2 separate regions of the Homo sapiens genome follow, and region 1 is linked to region 2. The links come from fine-mapping of genetic effects on gene expression. A gene starts in region 2. The other region holds a variant in brackets. All regions are shown on one strand. Distances are from middle to middle. Region 1 overlaps EFHB (EF-hand domain family member B). Region 2 holds the start of EFHB (EF-hand domain family member B).

Region 1 (5,382 bases), 33 kb after region 2:
TTTTGTATTTTTAGTAGAGATGGGGTTTCACCATGATCGTCAGGCTGGTCTTGAACTCATGACCTCAGGTGATCCGCCCGCCTCAGCCTCCCAAAGTGCTGGGATTACAGGCGTGAGCCACTGTGCCCAGCCCTTTTTGTATTTTGAAACTTAATTGGAATGTTATTGCTAGCAGTAGAGAAATTCTTTATTCTTTTGGTTGCAGTTTAAAAAGAGCTCACTACTTCATTCAGTTTGATTTCTGTTACAAACGTGGAGTCAAGAGTGTTAGTCTACATTTTGAGGCATCTAATTTTATATGCACGATTTAATGTAAATTTGGTTTACTCTCAACTTTTATGGGATATATTTCCCCTGTAAAAGAGGATCTCTATTGGCTGGGCATGGTGGCTCATGCCTGTAATCCCAGCACTTTGGGAGGCTGAGGCAGGCAGATCACAAGGTCAGGAGTTCGAGACCAGCCTGGCCACATAGTGAAGCCCTGTCTCTACTAAAAATACAAAAATTAGCTGAGTGTGGTGGCACGCACCTGTAGTCCCAGCTACTTGGGAGGCTGAGGCAGGAGAATCGCTTGAACCCGGGAGGTGGAGGTTTAAGTGAGCTGAGATGGCGCCATTGCACTCCAGCCTGGGTGACAGAGCAAGACTCTGTCTCAAAAAACAAAAACAAAAACAAACAAACAAACAAAAACGATCTCTATCTATATTTTGCCTGTGACCTTTGGTTTGAATAATCAAACCAAAGTCAAATCAAACTTTGGTTTGAGTCATCAGATGTAGGCATGCCTGTGCGAGTGCATGTGTTTGTGCGCATGTGTGAACGAATGAATTCACTGGCACACAAAGAGCTTTATCTGAGTTGGTTCGTGAATGCAACTCAAGATTGTTGTGTAATGATGTTGCAGTTATTGATATTCTGACATACATGGTTGCCCACAGATACTTCCTGATTGTTGCAGAAGCATACTCCAGGCAGTTCTTGACTAAAAAGAGTTGGCTCTGTGCCTGACAGTTCTTTTTCTTATCATCTCTGCATGTTCCTAATTATGTACCTTGGAGCTGATTTTTTTTTTTTTTTGAGACAGAGTTTCACTCTGTTGCCCAGGCTGGAGTGCAGTGGTGTGATCTTGGCTCACTGCAACCTCTGCCTCCTGGGTTCAAGCGATTCTCCTGCCTCAGCCTCCCAAGTAGCTGGGATTACAGGTGCCCATCACCAGGCCTGGCTAATTTTTGTATTTTTAGTAGAGATGGGGTTTTGCCATGTGGGCCAGGCTGATCTCGAACTCCTGACCTCAGGGTGATCCACCTGCTTCGACCTCCCAAAGTGCTGGGATTACAGGTGTGAGCCGCTGCGCCTGGCCTGGAGCTGATTTTTAGATTGTTAACTCTGTTTGTTCAAGTTATAGCCCTAAACTGCATTGATTTATTCTGACTCCACCTACATTCTTCCCCCCCGCCAACAAATGGGAAGGAAATGAAGAAACGAGATGAATTACTTATGTTTCTTCTTTTGTTCCTCCACAGAGTGTCACTCTTCTCCAGAAATTTATTCAGCTCAGTAGTTCAATAGTACAGGAGATACTTTGAAAAGCAAATGGAGTTTTAAGAATGTAATGTTCATTGTCTTTAGTCTTAGCAAAACAATAGAGAATTTATTAATTTTAATGTTATTAAATAGTAGTGTTGTAATTTTACACGTTTCAAAAGAAATTTTATTCATTTAATCACAACAGTAGAAGTAACAAAATTATTTTACAGAAAACTGGCAAAATAAAATCGCTCATAATCCTGTTCACTTTAATTCAGCCATTATTATCATTTTAATGTATTTTTTCCTAGTGTGGCTCCCTATGTAGATTTTTGCATAGTTTTTACCAGAGTGCAATCCCATTTTATATCCTGTTTTCCACCTAACATAAAATAATTATATATTGCTGTATATGCCAGCATTGAAAATGCATGCAGTGTATTCTTATTGATGTGACAGAATTTAATTACCCTCCACAACTGAACATTTTGATTCTTTTCTTTATTCCACTGTCATCAATGAGGCTACAAACATTTTTTATACATATAACTTTTCTACATTTTTTTTTTTTTTGAGACAGGCTCACTTTGTTGCCCAGGCTGGGGTGCCGTGGCATGATCTTGGCTTACTGCAGCCTCTGACTCCCAGGTTCAAGTGACTGTCCTGCCTCAGCCTCCCAAGTACCTGGGATTACAGGCGTGTTCCACCACACCTGGCTAATTTTTGTAGTTTTAGTAGAGATGGGGTTTCACCATGTTGGTCAGGCTGGTCTTGAACTCCTGACCTCAAGTGATCTGCCCACTTTAGCCTCCCAAAGTGGTGGGATTACAGGTATGAGCCACCGTGCCCAGGCTCTTTTCTACATTTTTAATTGCTATCTGGATTATATCATTATTATTGGTTCCCAGATGTGGATAAAAGGGCATGAGTGTTTTTATGCTTTTTGATTCATATTGCCCAATTATTTTCAAAAGAACTGTAGGAATTTGCACTAGCAATCTGTAAGTGTTTTACCATATTTTTTTGCCAAAGTTAGATATTCTTTCTCTCTCCATATGCTTATATATATTTGCTTGTTTACTAGGTTAGAAGTGGCACTTTGTTATTCTTTTATTTTACATTTATTTTATTACTAGAGAGTATTATAAATTCTCCATGTATTTGCTTACTAGATGTGAGTTATTTGTTTATATCCTTTGGCTATTTATTTATTTGATGCTAAATTTTTTTATTTTTATTTTCATTTTTTGTAGAGATGGGATCTCACTATGTTACCCAGGCTCGTCTCAAATTCCTAGCCTCGATTGATCCTCCAGCTTTAGCTTCCTAAAGTATTGAGATTACAGGCATGAACCACTGTGCCTGGCCTGATGCTTAATTTTCTTCTAGCAATTTTACGAGTTACACTTACTTTATTTTATTTTTTTGAGACAGGGTCTCACTCTGTCACCCAGGCTGGAGTACAGTGACGTCATCTCAGCTCACTGCAACCTCAGCCTCCCAGTCTCAAGCGATCTTCCTAGCTCAGCCTCT[C/T]GAGTAGCTGGGACTACAGGTACATGCCACCACGCCCAGCTAGTTTTTGTATTTTTTTAAGAGACAGGGTTTTGCCATGTTGCCCAGGCTAGTCTCAAACTCCTGAGCTCAAGCCATCTGCCCACCTCAGCCTCCCAAAGTGTTGGGATTACAGCAGTGAGCCACTGTGCCCGGCCAGGAGCTACACTTACAATAGTGATATTAACACCTTGTTTTATTTATTAAAAATATTGTTTGCTTACCTTATTCATTAATCAAGGTTTATTTTATTTTAGTGTAAATGAAAGAAAAATGAACACATAAAACTTTCTTTTTAGCAGAGAGTTTCTTTTGAAACTACATTTGTTCCTGGAAGGCCTAATGATACTATGGTATTCTTCGCCTTATGTATATTTGGCAGCCAAGAATACTTTAGGTAATAGAGATACCTGATAATGTTCTAATTTTGCAGGAAAAGAGGAGCTAAGTTTGTATCCAAAAGAGCAGATGATTTCAAAGAAAAGTTTCAACATAAACTTGGAAGAGTTTTAGATCCGTAAGTTAATGATTAACTTCAAATTGATAGTTTCTTTGCATAGAATTTAAAAAATACTCTTGTGGTAACTGTTGGTGTGCCTATTAGATTCTATCTATTAAATAAGAAAATCATTATTTTATTGTTAATCAGTTAATCTGTTAATATCTATAGAATTTGGGATTCCAGGAAAGCAGTGAGTTCTCCAAAATGCAGAAGGCACTGGAGAAGAGAGAGGGATAATTTTGCATAAAGCATTATTTCTGGGATATCAGAGATTTAACTTACTGTGTTTATATTTTTCTTTGTCTTTCCTGTCTGTCTGTCTTGCTCTCTATTTATACTTTGGTAATTTTGCTTTGAATGTGTTCTGTGTGTTCTGCTTTTCTTTGTAATTCTGGGCTCCTGAAAGAGGGTGAAAACATTCAGTCATTGTTAATGCAAGTGGAAGATCAGACAAAAGATCTATTGGAGAACTTTTGTTTGATCTTCATAGTTTGGTTATGAGATAAAATATGGGCTACTAAGAACATATGGCAAACATATTTTAAATTCCAGAGATGCCATGTGGTGGGTATTTTAACTAAGGATTTGTTTTCTTTGATAGCATTGCAGAAACAATGAATGTTCCCCCAGACTGCACATTTGGAGCTTGTCTCCGTCCTGAGGAATATGGTAAATATACACACTTTCTCCGTAAAAAACCCCAAACAAACAGCAACAAAATCCCCACAAAGTTATGCAGTTAAGCTCACCATCTCCTTATTTCAAAGCTTCTAATTTTAAAGACTTAAAATGTTGCATTAACATTAATGAGAAAAGTGTATAACACAGAAGTAAATTTTTTTTCATATTATGTTTGAAATAGGTACAGTTGGAAGCCCTTGTAATAAGTACTGTAAGTGTAGTTAAGGCTTTGAATTTTATTTAGGAAAAATAAATATGGCCTATATTAAACAAGCCAAAGTGAAGTGGGGCAGCTTTTTAATTAATTTGGATATTGTCCTAGTCCTAACGTCTCAAAGTGTGGTCTGCAGACTGCCAGTATTGGCATCCCCTGGGAGCTCCTTAGAAATGCAGAATCTCAGGCCCCATCCCAGAACTATTGAATCAGAAACTGCATTTTAACTATATTTCCAGGTGAATTTTAAGCACATTCAAATATGAGAAAGCACTGTACTCTACAACCACATAATTAAGAACCACTCTTTTCCTACCAGCCAGCCAGCTAGCCAGTAAGTTGATCAATCAATCAATACATAAAGTAGCAGAAGAAACTTACTTGGATTTTGTCTTTATTTCTAGCCAATCTAAACAGCAGATATCCAAAGGGAAAAATATGCTACAGCTTATCAGGATTGGGCTGTATATCAGTGGTTTTCAAAACATGGGCTGCAGACTACCTGCATTAAAATCATCCAGGGAGTTTATTAAATCTGCACCTTCCTGGGACCCATGCCCTAGATATTCTGATTCAGTAGGTTCTTATATACACTAACGTTTAAGAACCACTATGAAAAATGTTTTGGCTAAAGTCAACTCATTGACAGGTAGAATAAATATTTATTGAGCTTATGCAAGACAGTGGTTTGGAGCATCATTAATTACTACATTAGGAAATTGTATTTGGGTTCTGTTTTTACACAAACTACTAATGTTTGATGGATGCCTATCCATCTTAGAGGCTTTAATATCTTTTGAAGAGGGTAAGGGATGATTAGGAAACCATCAATTAGCTTGAAAAAGAAGTAGGTAATCATGGTAAATTCTGCCTGTTTGAGGGCAAGCTTCATGCTGGTGGGTGCTCT
Region 2 (5,382 bases):
AGGACTATAGGCATGTACCACTACACCTGGCTGATTTTTGAAATTTTTTGTAGGGATAGGTCTCACTGTGTTACCCATGCATGTCTTGAACTCCTGGACTTTTTTTTTTTTCAGTCTGTCGCCCAGGCTGGCATGCAATGGTGCAATGATGGCTCACTGCCGCATAGACCTCCTGGGCTCAAGTGATCCTCCCACTTCAGCCTCTCAGATAGCTGAGACTACAGATGTGAGCCACCACGCTGGGCTAATTGAATTCTTGGCGTTAAGCAATTCTTCTGCCTTGGCTTCCCGAAGTGTTGAGATTACAGGTGAGTGACTATGTCCAGACCCCTACACACTTTTAAAAAAATATTTTTGGATTTTAAGGGGTTTTTGTAGAGTTCTGGAATCCTGTAAATTCTTTTCAAATTCTGTTTTGCTTTTTTTTTTTTTTTTTTTTTGAGATGGAGTCTCACTCTGTCGCCAGGCTGGAGTGCAGTGGTGTGATCTCGGCTTACTGCAACCTCCGCCTCCCAGGTTCAAGCGATTCTTCTACCTCAGCCTCCCAAGTAGCTGGGACTACAGGCGCCTGCCATCAGGCCCAGCTAATTTTTGTATTTTAAGTAGAAACGGGGTTTCACCATGTTGGCCAGGATGGTCTCGAACTCCTGACCTCGTGATCCACCCGCCTCTACCTCCCAAAGTGCCGGGATTACAGGCATGAGCCACTGCGCCCGGCCATTTTTGGTTTTTTATTTTTAAATGGAATCTCACTCTGTTGTTCAGGCTTGAGTGTCGTGGCACCATCAAGGCTCACTGCAACCTCTGCCTCCGGGTTTAAATGATTCTCTTGCCTCAGCCTCCTGAGTAGCTGGGATTACAGGCGCTGGACACCATGCCCAGCTAATTTTTATATTTTTAGTAGAGACAGGGTTTCGCGATGTTGGCCAGGCTGGTCTCAAACTCCTGACCTCAAGTGATCTGCCTGCCTCGGCCTCCCAAAGTGCTGGGATTAAAGGTGTGAGCCACTGTGCCCAGCCTAATTCAGTTCAAATTCCAAGCTAGGGGTTTCATATCCTATATGTGTAGAACATGACAAATATTTACCAAATATACTTTCATTAAAATCTGAAAGGTGAAACCTCAATTTAAAAAAAAATCTCCTACTTAAAAACAATGAAGTTTTAGTTTGCCACATTATCTTTAAAATACAATATGCCTTATTGTGTAGCATATCTCAAACTTTAAAATATTTAGTTTAGGCCAGGAGCAGTGGCTCACGCCTGTAATCCGACACTTTGGAAGGCCGAGGCGGTGGATCACTTGAGGTCAGGTGTTTGAGACCAGCCTGGCCAACATGGTGAAACCCCGTTTCTACTCAAGATACAAAAATTAGCCTAGCATGGTGGCGCATGCCTGTAATCCCAGCTACCCGGAAGGCTGAGGCAGGAGAATCGCTTGGACCCAGGAGGCGGAGTTTGCAGTGAGCCCAGATTGTGCCACTGCACTCCAGCCTGGGCGACAAAGGGAGACTCCATCTCAAAAAAAAAAAAAATTACTTTAAATGTGATTTAAAGCCTAGTTGTTAAAGTGTAAGTGTTCTCAAGGACTTTAAGATGTCTTTATGCCACAGTTGTCAAATATAATATTTCTAGAATTTAAAGTCATTTTTTAGCACTAAAATAACTACATGCAGGGCGGAGGTACTTGGACAAGGAAGGACCTAAAAAAAGTGTTCATCACCAGAAAGTTTATTTGTTCATCATCACCAACATTAAGAGGCCAATGGCCAGGAAGAAGCCAATTGTTGAAACCATTCTAAAACGACTGTGTTGCTTGGGAAACCAGAGAAGTTGGTGAACATTTGATGCGCCGAAAGCCACATCACTCAAATTTTCTCGCCCTCCAAATCTAGCAAAGAAAAAGAGAGAGGAAGCAGGGATAGAGGGGAAGAGGGGGAGGGAGGGGAGAGAGGGAGAAAGGAGAGAGGAAAGGCAAGAGAGAGAGACACACAGAGAGGGAGAGAGAGGGAGAGGGCAAAGGAGAGGAGAGGGAGAGAGAGGAGAGAGAAGGGGGGGCAGAGAGAAACAGAGGAGAGAGAAGAGGGGAGAGAGAGAGACAGAGGAGAGAGAAGAGGGGAGAGAGAGAGAGATTGAGAGAGAGAGAGAGAAGAATGAGAGATGGGCAGGGATCTGTCCAAGCAGGACTTGAGCGCCAAGCCCCGCCCCTGTTTCCCAGGTAACCTGATAAACAGACTCCATCTTTTCCTCTGTGAACTCGGCTAGGTGTTAAGAGGCAGGCAGGAAGCAATGGACAGGGAGTCCGAGTGAGGTTGTGCTCTTTCCTGAGAGAGGGGTTCCGCAAGGGATTGGAGGCGTCTTTGTAGCCAGGTACAGCTTTCCCCTTAGAGATGAGCGCTCTTGGAGAAATGAGAATGGGGAGAAATCGTCCATGAACATGGAGATTGGACATCCCCACGAAGGAAAGGATGATTTAGGAGACAAGAGGGTCATCATGGGAACAAAATTTCCCATGGAGTTGGGGATCAGAGTAGGATTAGGAAAAGAAGATTCCCGATGCGGGGAGAGCCCTGTGGTTAGTAATAAGTGTGAGGGAAGGATGGCACCACCAGAAACAAAATTTCCATTGAGCAAGGGGCTTGAAATGGGATTAGAAAGACAGAATATTTCTAGGACTGTCATGCAGAGGGGTAGTTTAGGAGTCGACAGTGTCTCAGCTTCACAGGGAACAAAACCTTCTCTGTTGCCAGGAAGAATGGGGTTAGAAAATGAGAGTCTTCTTGCAGGATATACCCATGAACGGATAATACAGCCTCCTTTGGGCAGGGTGTGTGGAAGTTCACAGGCTGCAGGGAGCAGGAGAGCTCCTTTGGCTAGTGGCCCTGAAGGGGTAGAGGAATTAGTGGGAAAGCCTGCTTTCGTTATGGAACCAAGACAGGAAATGGAAAAAGAGTCTACCTGTGTTTTAATGAAACCCAACACAGAGATTAAGCTTCCTGTGGAGGTGGACATTGGACTAACCCAAGCCGAGGGGCCAGATGAGACTAAGAATACAGAGCCCCAAATGGGCTTGGTGATAGAACCTCCCCAATGCCAGTTTGCCCAACAACATGAACAGAGAAAGGAGGCTGGAAACATTGAATCAGGAGTGGAACCTCCAGATCGCATCAGACCCATATACTCTGGGAAGTTTTTTGATCGGACCCCTTGCTGGCCAAGTGTAAGTTTTTTTCCACTTTCCATAGGAACTAAACTGTGTATAGCCATGTCTTTATTGAGATGATAAAGTGATAAAATTTGTTTTGGTTTGAAGAGACAAATCACAAGGATTTTATGAGATTCCTATATTTCTTGCCCCACTGGAATCTTTGCAGATGTTACTTAGATTTCTGATTCTCTGCCTCCCTTCCTAGATGTCAGCTTTGTTTTCTCTGCACACCGGTGGTTTGTTCTGATTTCTCTTTTCTCCTTTAACCTTCATTTCATTTTCCTCAAGCCTCTCACATATTGAAATACATGAAGATACATGCTGTGCCCTAATATTCATACTATGAATGGAAAAGAAAAGTGTTTCTTTTTCCATTCATTGTTTAGTCTGTGAGTTATTTGTTCTTTCAGCAAAGACTTGTGGTAGCCATTGTGCCAGGTACAGGACAAACTAAATTGAAAAGTACATGGTCCCTACCTCTAGGTTTAGGCTCACTCCAGTAATGGAGACAGATAACTAAAGGAATAGTATACAGTTATCTAAATTTATAAAAACACACATGATTCTTCCTTCATAGAAGTACACTCTGAATACAGAGCTCAGTGTAAAGATTGCACAATTCTGTTTAGAAGAGATGGGAAAAGCTTAATAGGGAAAGTAATATTTGAGCTAACATCGAAAGGTGTCAGTATTTGTCTGAAGAAAGAATGAGGTTAGAGCATTTTGGGCATAAAAAGGTATAGAGCACAACCAAAGCTTCCTATGTTCGAGAGGCATAAACAGTTGTATTCAGCCAGCAGGGTGTTGAGAGATGAAGATGAAGAAGAAATATGTAGAAGACATCTAAAGGCCCAGAATATAGGGATAAAACATATGGATACAGTATCAATGGTGGATCTTAATAAGGGTAAAAATAAATAAAATTTGCCTTTTAGAAAGATAATTCTGATATCAGTAGTTATGATGGACTGGAAGGGGGAGATACTGAATGACAAGTAGGTAGTTAGAACAACATTCCAAAGTTCTGATGGACTGGAATTAATGTAGAGTTAGAAAGAATAGAAAGGAGACTGCACTTTTGAGAGGTTTTTAGATGACATTTTAAAAAATTGCCACTCAGTTGTGGATCTACGTGGTGAGTAAGGGAAGTTGGTGGATGACTCAGGAGTTTCTGTGTTGATAATGATCTCTTTGGGTTTGGTGGCAAATGAATGTCCAGTGTTGGCTATCTTCAATATGAGATGACAGGTAAAGAAGCCAGGGAAACACTTGGTAATATGAGACAATTGATGCCCCATGGGTGTGAATGGGAGAAGAAAGTCAAGGCAAGAATCTTGGGAAACATTGACATGAGGTGGTCAGTGAAAAAGATGTCAATAAGGTGAGTTCTTGAGGGCAAGGACTATATCTTGTTCATTGTTTACCTTCATGTCATACCACAATACCTGGCTTATGGTGGTCATTCAATAAATACATGTTTGATAAATAGAAGGAAACCCGGATGATTAAATGGGAGAAAGACCAGTCGGAGAAGAAAAAAGTAAGTCTGAGACATTGGTATTGAGAAACATAAGAAAGTGTCCTTAAGTTATAATGTGAGTAAGAGATTCCACACACTGAAATTTGAAAATAAAACTCAGCTGAAGAGGTCACAGGGCTTCCACAGAATTTTGTCTGGGTTTGAAGACTTTTCCCCTTCAGACTCAGAATGTTCTTTTCTTCTTTGTCTCACACTGCTTTCTGGTTTCCTCTTTGGGTTTTCCCAGCCACTTTACTTGACCACACCGGTTCCCATTTCTGGATTGGTTCTGCAATTTACAGCTTCTGATCTGATCTGATCTCACACACATGCAGACACCAGCTTCCAGTTTCCAGCACAGGCAATTCTAAAACCTCTGCTTCCTCCCACTTCGCATACCTTCCTTTCTAAATGTGATAGGACAAGAAAGAGAGTGTCAAGGAGAGAGTGACCAGCAGTGTTAAATCATCTCTGATAGGCCTTGTGCAGTGGCACTAGCTGTAATCCCAGCACTTTGGGAGGCTGAGGCAGGAGGGTTTTTTTGTTTTGTTTTGTTTTTTGAGACAGAGTCTCACTCCATCACCCAGGCTGGAGTGCAGGGGTGCAATCTCAGCTTGCTGCAAACTCGGCCTCCCAGGCTTAAGCGATTCTTGTGC

The links. PIP is the estimated chance that this variant, and not a neighbour inherited with it, causes the effect.
Region 1: its variant is the best candidate, but not a certain one, in a credible set for the expression of EFHB in nasal epithelium (TOPMed, PIP 0.60).

Annotation. Positions count from the first base shown.
Region 1 is chr3:19,897,645-19,903,026 of GRCh38, reverse strand. It overlaps EFHB (EF-hand domain family member B), which reads left to right. Exons shown (of 13, transcript NM_144715.4): 7 at 3,512-3,595; 8 at 4,182-4,249. Among named protein-coding and RNA genes, the nearest start is that of EFHB, 34 kb to the left of the region's middle. The variant C/T (reference allele first, on the strand shown) is at 3,061.
Region 2 is chr3:19,931,067-19,936,448 of GRCh38, reverse strand. It overlaps EFHB (EF-hand domain family member B), which reads left to right and starts at 2,232. Exons shown (of 13, transcript NM_144715.4): 1 at 2,232-3,219. The coding sequence starts at 2,431. RefSeq lists a silencer at 4,938-5,232.